Homo sapiens: one gene and its partner. The protein of the gene in region 2 interacts with the protein of the main gene of each other region in a pairwise test. Each region holds a gene or a part of one and is shown on either strand. Other genes may lie near its edges. The genes, in order: TESC and OPA1.

Region 1 (3,817 bases), on a different chromosome or scaffold from region 2:
TCACCCGTAAAGCAGAAACAACCCAAACATCTGTCAACTCATAATTGGAGAAATAAAATGTGGCCCATGCAATGGAGTTTTTTTGTTTGTTTGTTTTTTGAGATGGAGTCTCGCTCTGCCGCCCAGGCTGGAGTGCAGTGGTGCAATCCTGGCTCACTGCAACCACAATGGAGTATTTTTTAGCCATAAAAAGGAACCAAGTACTGATAGATGCTACAACACAAATGAATCTAAAAAACATGATGCTAAGTGAGCCCGGGCGCCGTAGCTCACACCTGTAATCCCAGCACTGTGGGAGGCCGAGGCAGGCGGATCACTTGAGGTCAGGAGTTCAAGACCAGCCTGGCCAACATGGTGAAACCCCATCTCTACTAAAAATACAAAAATTACCCGGGTGTGGTGGCGCACATCTGTAATCCCAGCTACTTGGGAACCTCAGACACAAGAGTTGCTTGAATCCGGGAGGTGGAGGTTGCAGTGAGCCAAGATCTCACCATTGCACTACAGCCTGGTAGACTGTAGTCTCAAAAAACTTTTGAGTTTTGAGACTCCGTCTCAAAATACAAACAAAAAAAACCCATTATGCTAAGTGAAAGAAGCCAATTACAAATGACCACATATTACATAATTCCATTTACATGAATTATCTGGAATAGGTAAATACACCGCGGTAGAAAGCAGATTGGTGGTTGTCAGGGGGTTGGGGAGAGGGGAATGTGGTGTGCCAGCTGAGGGTACAGCTTTCTTTTGGGAGTGATGAATATGTTCTAATATTGACTGCAGTGCTGGATGCAGAACTCTGTACATACAACAAATGTCACTGAATTGCACATTTTAATGGCTAAGTTGTATTATGTAAATTACATTTCAGTAAAGCTGTTAAAAAAAAAAAAAAAAAAAGCCAGCCAGGTGTGATGGCATGCGCCTGTAGTCCCAGCTAGCAACCAATGCAGGAGGCTGAGGCAAGAGGATTGTTTAAGCCCAGGAGTTCAAGGTTACAGTGAGCTATGATGGTGCCACTACACTGCAGCCTGGGTGATACAGTGAGACTCCAATCTCTTAAAAAAAAAAAAAAAAAGGCAAAAAAAGCTTGGCTGGGGAGAGGGGAGGGTGAATTTCACAGGAGGACACCCTGTAGCTGGCACAGGTAATGCTGAGTCCTAGAGGCTGCAGGTTTGCAGGCAGGGGCGTCAGCCACTCCCTCACCTGCCTGCCCTCCTCCCCTGCCTTTCACAGAAGGCCATCCTGGGTTCTCTCAATCTGCTTCCTGCTCACCTTTTCCTTCTGCTCCATGGGCCTCCACGGGCAGTGTCTTGGGAAGGACCCAGCACACAGGCTGGTGATCCTAGGGAAAAAGGTGTCAGGCCCAGGTAGGGAAGGCAGAGGGTATCAGCCCACTGAAAATGAGGACGTCCGGGTGGGAAGTGATGACGGGACAGTCATTGGGAGTGGGATTCAACACTAGGACAGACAGATGCTGGAGAGGAGGAGGCAAAACAGATGCAAGGGACTCTACGCCGTTTGGGTTGGAAGATTCTGTGAACGCCTTGTGGCCCCTGTGCTGCCCTGCCTTACGCATTGGAGGGGTGGGGATGGAGGCATGGAGAGGCACAGCAGGACCTGGCCGATTCCCGGGTCCCTCTGTGTCCCCGGCATGGCCTCCTGTCCCTCCCACCCAGGCCTTTCAGCTGGGCTCACTCATGGCCTCTGGCCAAACTCAGTAGCTGTGTCAGGGCAGACTCATGTTTTAGATTCCCAGAAACCCAGTTCAAAAGAAGGAGGTAGACTCGGGACAGCTGGCCCAGAGAGATGGGATGTTATTTGGCCATGGAAAAAAAAATAAGATTATTTTTTGGCCATAAAAAGGAACAAGGTTTTTTGTTTTGTTTTTTTGAGACAGAGTTTCACTCTGTTGCCCAGGCTGGAGCGCGGTGGCACAATCTCGGCTCAATCTCCATGGGCCTGCTCCATAGTGGATCTCGGCTGCAATCTCCGCCTCCCGGGTTCAAGTGATTCTCCTGCCTCAGCCTCCCGAGTAGCTGGGATTACAGACATGTGCTACCACGCCCAGCTAACTTCTGTATTTTTAGTAGAGGTGCGGTTTCACCAGTTGGCCAGGCTGGTCTCAAACTCCTGACCTCAGGTAATCCACCCACCTCAGCCTCCCAAAGTGCTGGGATTACAGGTGTGAGCCATTGCACCTGTCCAGGAACGAGATTCTCATCCATGCCACAGCACGGATATACCTGGAAGACATGATGCTCAGTGGAAGAAGCCAGACACAAATGGTGTACGATGCCATTTATAGGAAACATCCAGAAAAGACAAATGCAGGGAGACAAAGTGGAGAGATGTGGTTTCCAGGGGCTGGGGACGGGGTGATGGCTAACGGGTGCAGAGCTTCTTTCTGAGGTGCTCTAAAGTGGACTGTACATTTTCAATGGGCGAATTTTATAATATGTGCATTACAGCTCCATAAAGCTGTTAAAATTTTCTAATAAGTCTTTAAAAAAACAAAAAAGAACTGCTGTGCTACTGCACTATGACTCCATTTATGTAAAGAACAGAAAGTGACAACACGAACCTCTGCAGTCAGGGTGGTGAACCGCCCCAGAGTTGGGGGTGATTGAGAGGGAATATGGGGGCCTTTTGGGAGCCGGGAACATTCTGTTGCATGTTCCGTCTGTCAAAGTCCCTCTGTGTGTGACACATGCTTTTCTGTATGCAGGTCACACCCTCACTGCTCGGAGACAGCTCGATGCCTTGCCCTTTTTCCTCATTAGTGGGAGGCGACCACAGGAGGGGACAGAATAGAGAGACCAGAGCCCTGAATGAGTCAGGGTTACCAGGGAGATGATCTACGAAATCACGATCGGATGACAATGACAGCTACAGCTCACAACCGTGCAAGCAACTTGGCCGGAGCCACCTCGCTTCCCAGAGACCCCACAAGGGCTCCTATTATCCACGACGCTTCAGGCTCAGCACAGACAGGTTCGGCAACCTGCCCCAGCTCACCCAGTGGGGGCATGGAAGAGTCAGCTTGGAAGCCAGGTAGCGTACAGCCATGCTCTTACCAGATACCCTGCTGCCCGACTCTCCCTGGCCATCCGAATAGAATCCATTTTCCAAGGCCCAGATCCCTGAGAAAGGGACCACGTGGAGCTCCAGAGGGAATCTGGGAGAACAGAGAAGCCGCTGGCTGCTATGCTGCTAGCCAAACCCTCTCTGGCTTTCACTGGCTGTTGCTAATCCTTCCTGAGTCTGTTTTCTCGTCTGTGAGGAGGGCACACTGATACTGACAGAGGGTGAAGGGCACAGCCTCTGGAATCACACTTGGGCTCTACCCTACTCTGCTACCTGGGTCAAACGGCGTTGCCTCACCCAGCCTCTGTCTACTCCTTTGCAAACAGGAACCTCACAGGGTTGCCGTACAGTTTAGAGGAGATAAAGTCTGCAACATGCTCAGCACGGTGTCTGGTGAACTGGGAGTGCACCACAGATGGCACCTTGCAGGATGGGGACCCTGTGATGTCCACAGCACCCCGTCCTCAGTGCCTTGCACTGCTGGGCTTGGCAAGGTGGTCAATAAATGGTTTGCTGAGCGAATAATGAAGCGAATAATGAAGATGGCTGCACGCAGGGCTTCCCTCTTTGTCTGGCCCATCCTGAGGCACTGCCCTTCCCCAGGTGCCTTCCCCAGGGCCCAGGTGTCCAGACCCTGGAAGGAGAGCAGACCCCAATGTCCCAGGAGAGAGGGAGGAGAGGTGGGGGAGAAACCACCTAGAAGAGCCTGACCCATGTGCCTGGAGAAGAA
Region 2 (3,817 bases):
CCTGCCTCAGCCTCCCGAGTAGCTGGGATTACAGATGCCCGCCACCACACCTGGCAAGTTTTTTGTACTTTTAGTAGAGACAGGGTTTCGCCATGTTGGCCAGGCTGGTCTTGAACTCTTGACCTCAGGTGATCCGCCCTCCTCAGCCTCCCAAAGTGCTGGGATTACAGGCATGAGCCACTGCACCCAGCCAAGAAATGTTATAGCAATGTATATTAACAGTCAGTGGTTTCACAAGAACTTCTAAATGCCTAATTGACACCTTTCTAGCTTCTCTATAGTTATTTTACTTTAAAAATACAATTCCTTCTACTGAGATTAGCTAAACAGGCTAAATTTAAAAACAATAAACAGCTGTTGGAAAGCTGTTTAGCTATTTTCCATCAGAGGATTTGCTGATTTGTAGCACAGGGCAAAGGCCCAAGAGAAAAACTTAAAATGTGTAGCAGTTTCACTGGGTTGAGTAGACAAGATTGGAATTCCGAGTTATTAAGTAGTCACGTCTTAAGGTGCCACAATCCCAAAGAAAAATGAACTGCAGAAATAAACCTCCAAAACAAAACAAAACCCTACATCCTGCGCACAATTTCCTTTCACGGCATTCACATTTTAGGAAACCAAGCAGAAAGAAGCTGCTAAGGAGGTTAAAATGCTAAGCTGGGGTTTTGGCACTTTCACTGCTCTAGGGAAACAAAAAACTGGAATTCAGGGTTGGTCAAGGAGAAGCTCTAGTAAACACTAAGGGACTAATGACAAACCGGAAAGAGACCAGCCTCATCTGTTTCAAGGAAACCTGTCCACACCCTGCCTGCCAAAACAAAATTAATTTCTTCTTGAAGTATCATCCACAGCTTCTACAATTAGGATGCTAGTAACAATGTAAAAGGTAGGTTTCTCTCCCATGTTTTTACAACTGATTATTGAACAGGATATGAGGTGTAGTCTGAGGTTCATTTTGTTTTTTTCTCTAGGTTAGATGTACCCCAAATTCCCATCGGTAGTAAAATGGATATGTAAAGTCTGGTACAGTCACACAGTACCACACACAGAACTAGTAACACATAACACGATTCAATCCATAGCTAGACCCACAAAAGTGCAATCTAGATGAATCACACTAGGCTGCCCATACCCTGTTGCACTTGTAAACAGATTTCATTTCTTGAAGATTTCAGCATCAGCCTCACTGTCTTTCTCCCACTATTCTTGCCATAATTCTTGGTAATTTCAATCTTCCAATTATTCTACACCTACCCCCCACCAGCTAAACATGAAAAAAACAAAACACAATCATAATGATTCATTTAAAATTTATGTCCACAGAACTTAAAGGGACTTCAGTCCACCTCAGTAATCCTAATATCACTTGACTTTCTCCACTGATTCACTCCTAGAGTCACCACGATCTGTTAACAGACTTCACTTTTTCTTCCTGCCTCAGTCTTTAATCTCTTCTCCTTTCTAATTAACAGCTGATCATCTGGCTTAGTATTTCACTGAGTAAGCGGAAGCAATCAGAAGGAAACTTCCACACGTTCCCCTTTCTTGCCTCCACTGGTGAACTCAACGACTGGTTTCTATGTTCACCTTCCTTGATGGATCAGCAGCATGTGACCTCACTGAGCACTCCCTCCTCCTCCATGTTTTCTTTTTGTTTACCTGACTTTGCGCACACTGTCCTGCTCTGCTTTCCCTCTTACTATACTGGTTGGGCCTTCACACATTCCTTTGTTATTTTCTCTTCCCTCAACATCTTAATGTTCAGAGTGCCCAGAATATACTGCTTGCTTCTGTGTTTTCTCTATCTCTACTCACTCCCTTGAAGATCTTCTCCAGTAAGATCATGACTTTAAATACTACTTTTAGATAGTTGATCATGACTCCTAAATGTATGTCTCTGGCCCACACCTCTGTCTAAACTTGTATACCCAACTGCTTGTTATCACCACTCAGCAAGTCCAAAACTGAACTCCTGATCTTCTTCCCCCAAACCTGATCCACTGACAGACTTCCATGCAAACTACATCCTTCAATTTGTTCAGGCTAAAGACCCTGGAGGCATCATTGATGATTGACACTCTCTCTCTCTCTCCCCATTGCTTTTCTTCTCTCCCCTCTCCATATCAAACCTGTCAAGAAATCCTGTTAATTCTACTTTCAAAACACATTTATAATCTATCCATTTCTTACCAGTTTCACTGCTACTTCCCTAGCCCAAGTATCACCTGGATACTCCAGTAGCCTAGACTCCCTGGTTCTACATCTTGGCTACAACTATTTTCAAAAGAGCAGCCTTTTAAAAGGCACTTTTGTTACTTTGCTCGAAATCCTGCACTGGCTTTCCATTTTACTTAAAACGGAAGTCTGTACAATGGCCTATAAGGCCTTATTGATCTGTTCCTCCCCGCTCTTCATTATTCCTCTAATGTCATCATTTGCCCCGACCATGGCTAGCTCTTCACCCCGACCTGACCACACAGGCCTCTTTGTTGTTCCTTGAACATGACAGCCACACAACCACCTCAGAGGCTTTGCATCAGCTATTCTCCTTGCTGAACACAGGATATCCTCAGGACTACTCCCTCACTTTCTGCAAATCTTGGTTCAAATGCCACCTTATCAATGCAATCTATGAATACTCTGGCACCCTCATTCTCCTTGCCTGGTTCTGCTTTTTCTTGTTGTACAACACTATTGCCTTCTAACCTACTATACAATTATGTATTATATTTATTATCTATTATCTGTCTCCCTCTACTAGAACATACCCTCCATTAAGGCAAGGTTCTTCTTTGTTGTTGCTGTTTACCAACATATTGCCTAGAATGCTACTGGTACATATTAAGCATTCCGTAAATATCTGTTCAATGAAAGACTCTGCAGCCCCATACCTTCTTCCTGTGACCCTGGAGAAATTGTCAGTGCTCCCAGATATGGACTAGTACACCAAGTCACAATCTCCTTCACCTCAGTAACTTTGCTCTTGCAATTTTCCCTCTCTCTTGCATCATTTCCCCCCTTTATTAGATCATTATAATCAGCATATAAACATCTTTAATCCTTTTCCCACTTGCTCCGACAATATTTGCCAGCACCGCTTGCAGCTGCAGCATTTGCCCCAACATAACTCTGCCATAAAATATCTTCACTTTTATGATTATTTTCACATAGCTCTAGTGTACTGACTTTGGAAACAAAAGACATTCTATTTCAAGCATTCTGTTTTTAGTAGCGGTACGTCCATTTACAAAATATAGTAATTTTCAATAGCTGAAAATGTCAAATCCTAGAAAATGCGGAATTCCTATGTGTGATGTTTACATCATTCTCAAAAAGTTGTTGGCCGAAGATTGATTTGATAAATCTGACTTTTAAAAAACAGACATTCTGATGATTGGGACGATTCTGATGTTAGTACTGTTTAGAAATAACTCTAAGAACAGTTTTTATATTTTATTTTCACATTGAAAATTAGTCAGATTTGCTTCAGCTTCAGAGAGTGTGTTTACGTAAAATTAAATGAGCACTGGTGTTGAGCTGCACTTTTTTTCTAAACAGGAAAAGGGTTAAAAACCTTCCCTTAATTCAACAATATTCAATTGCTACTGCTTCATTTCTCTGCTCTTTTGTCACAATAAAACTAGAAAATTATCTATATTCATTGACTCCACTTCCAATATTCTCATTCTCTTAACTTCTCTCTTATCTTATTCAGAATAAAATCCAAAGGCCTCCCAACTGGGTCTCTGTCATCCTCTCCTACCACTCTCCCCTCACTCAGCTCCTGCCACACTGGCCTCCTGGCTGTGCCTTCTAC

The links.
Region 1: the proteins of OPA1 (region 2) and TESC interact in a two-hybrid assay, tested with the Homo sapiens proteins (one large-scale study listed by IntAct).

The regions. Positions count from the first base shown.
Region 1 is NC_000012.12:117,057,685-117,061,501, forward strand, and holds part of TESC (calcineurin B homologous protein 3), read right to left. Parts: intron 1-3,817. UniProt on the Homo sapiens protein: Functions as an integral cofactor in cell pH regulation by controlling plasma membrane-type Na(+)/H(+) exchange activity. Promotes the maturation, transport, cell surface stability and exchange activity of SLC9A1/NHE1 at the plasma membrane.
Region 2 is NC_000003.12:193,638,208-193,642,024, reverse strand, and holds part of OPA1 (dynamin-like GTPase OPA1, mitochondrial), read right to left. Parts: intron 1-3,817. UniProt on the Homo sapiens protein: Dynamin-related GTPase that is essential for normal mitochondrial morphology by mediating fusion of the mitochondrial inner membranes, regulating cristae morphology and maintaining respiratory chain function.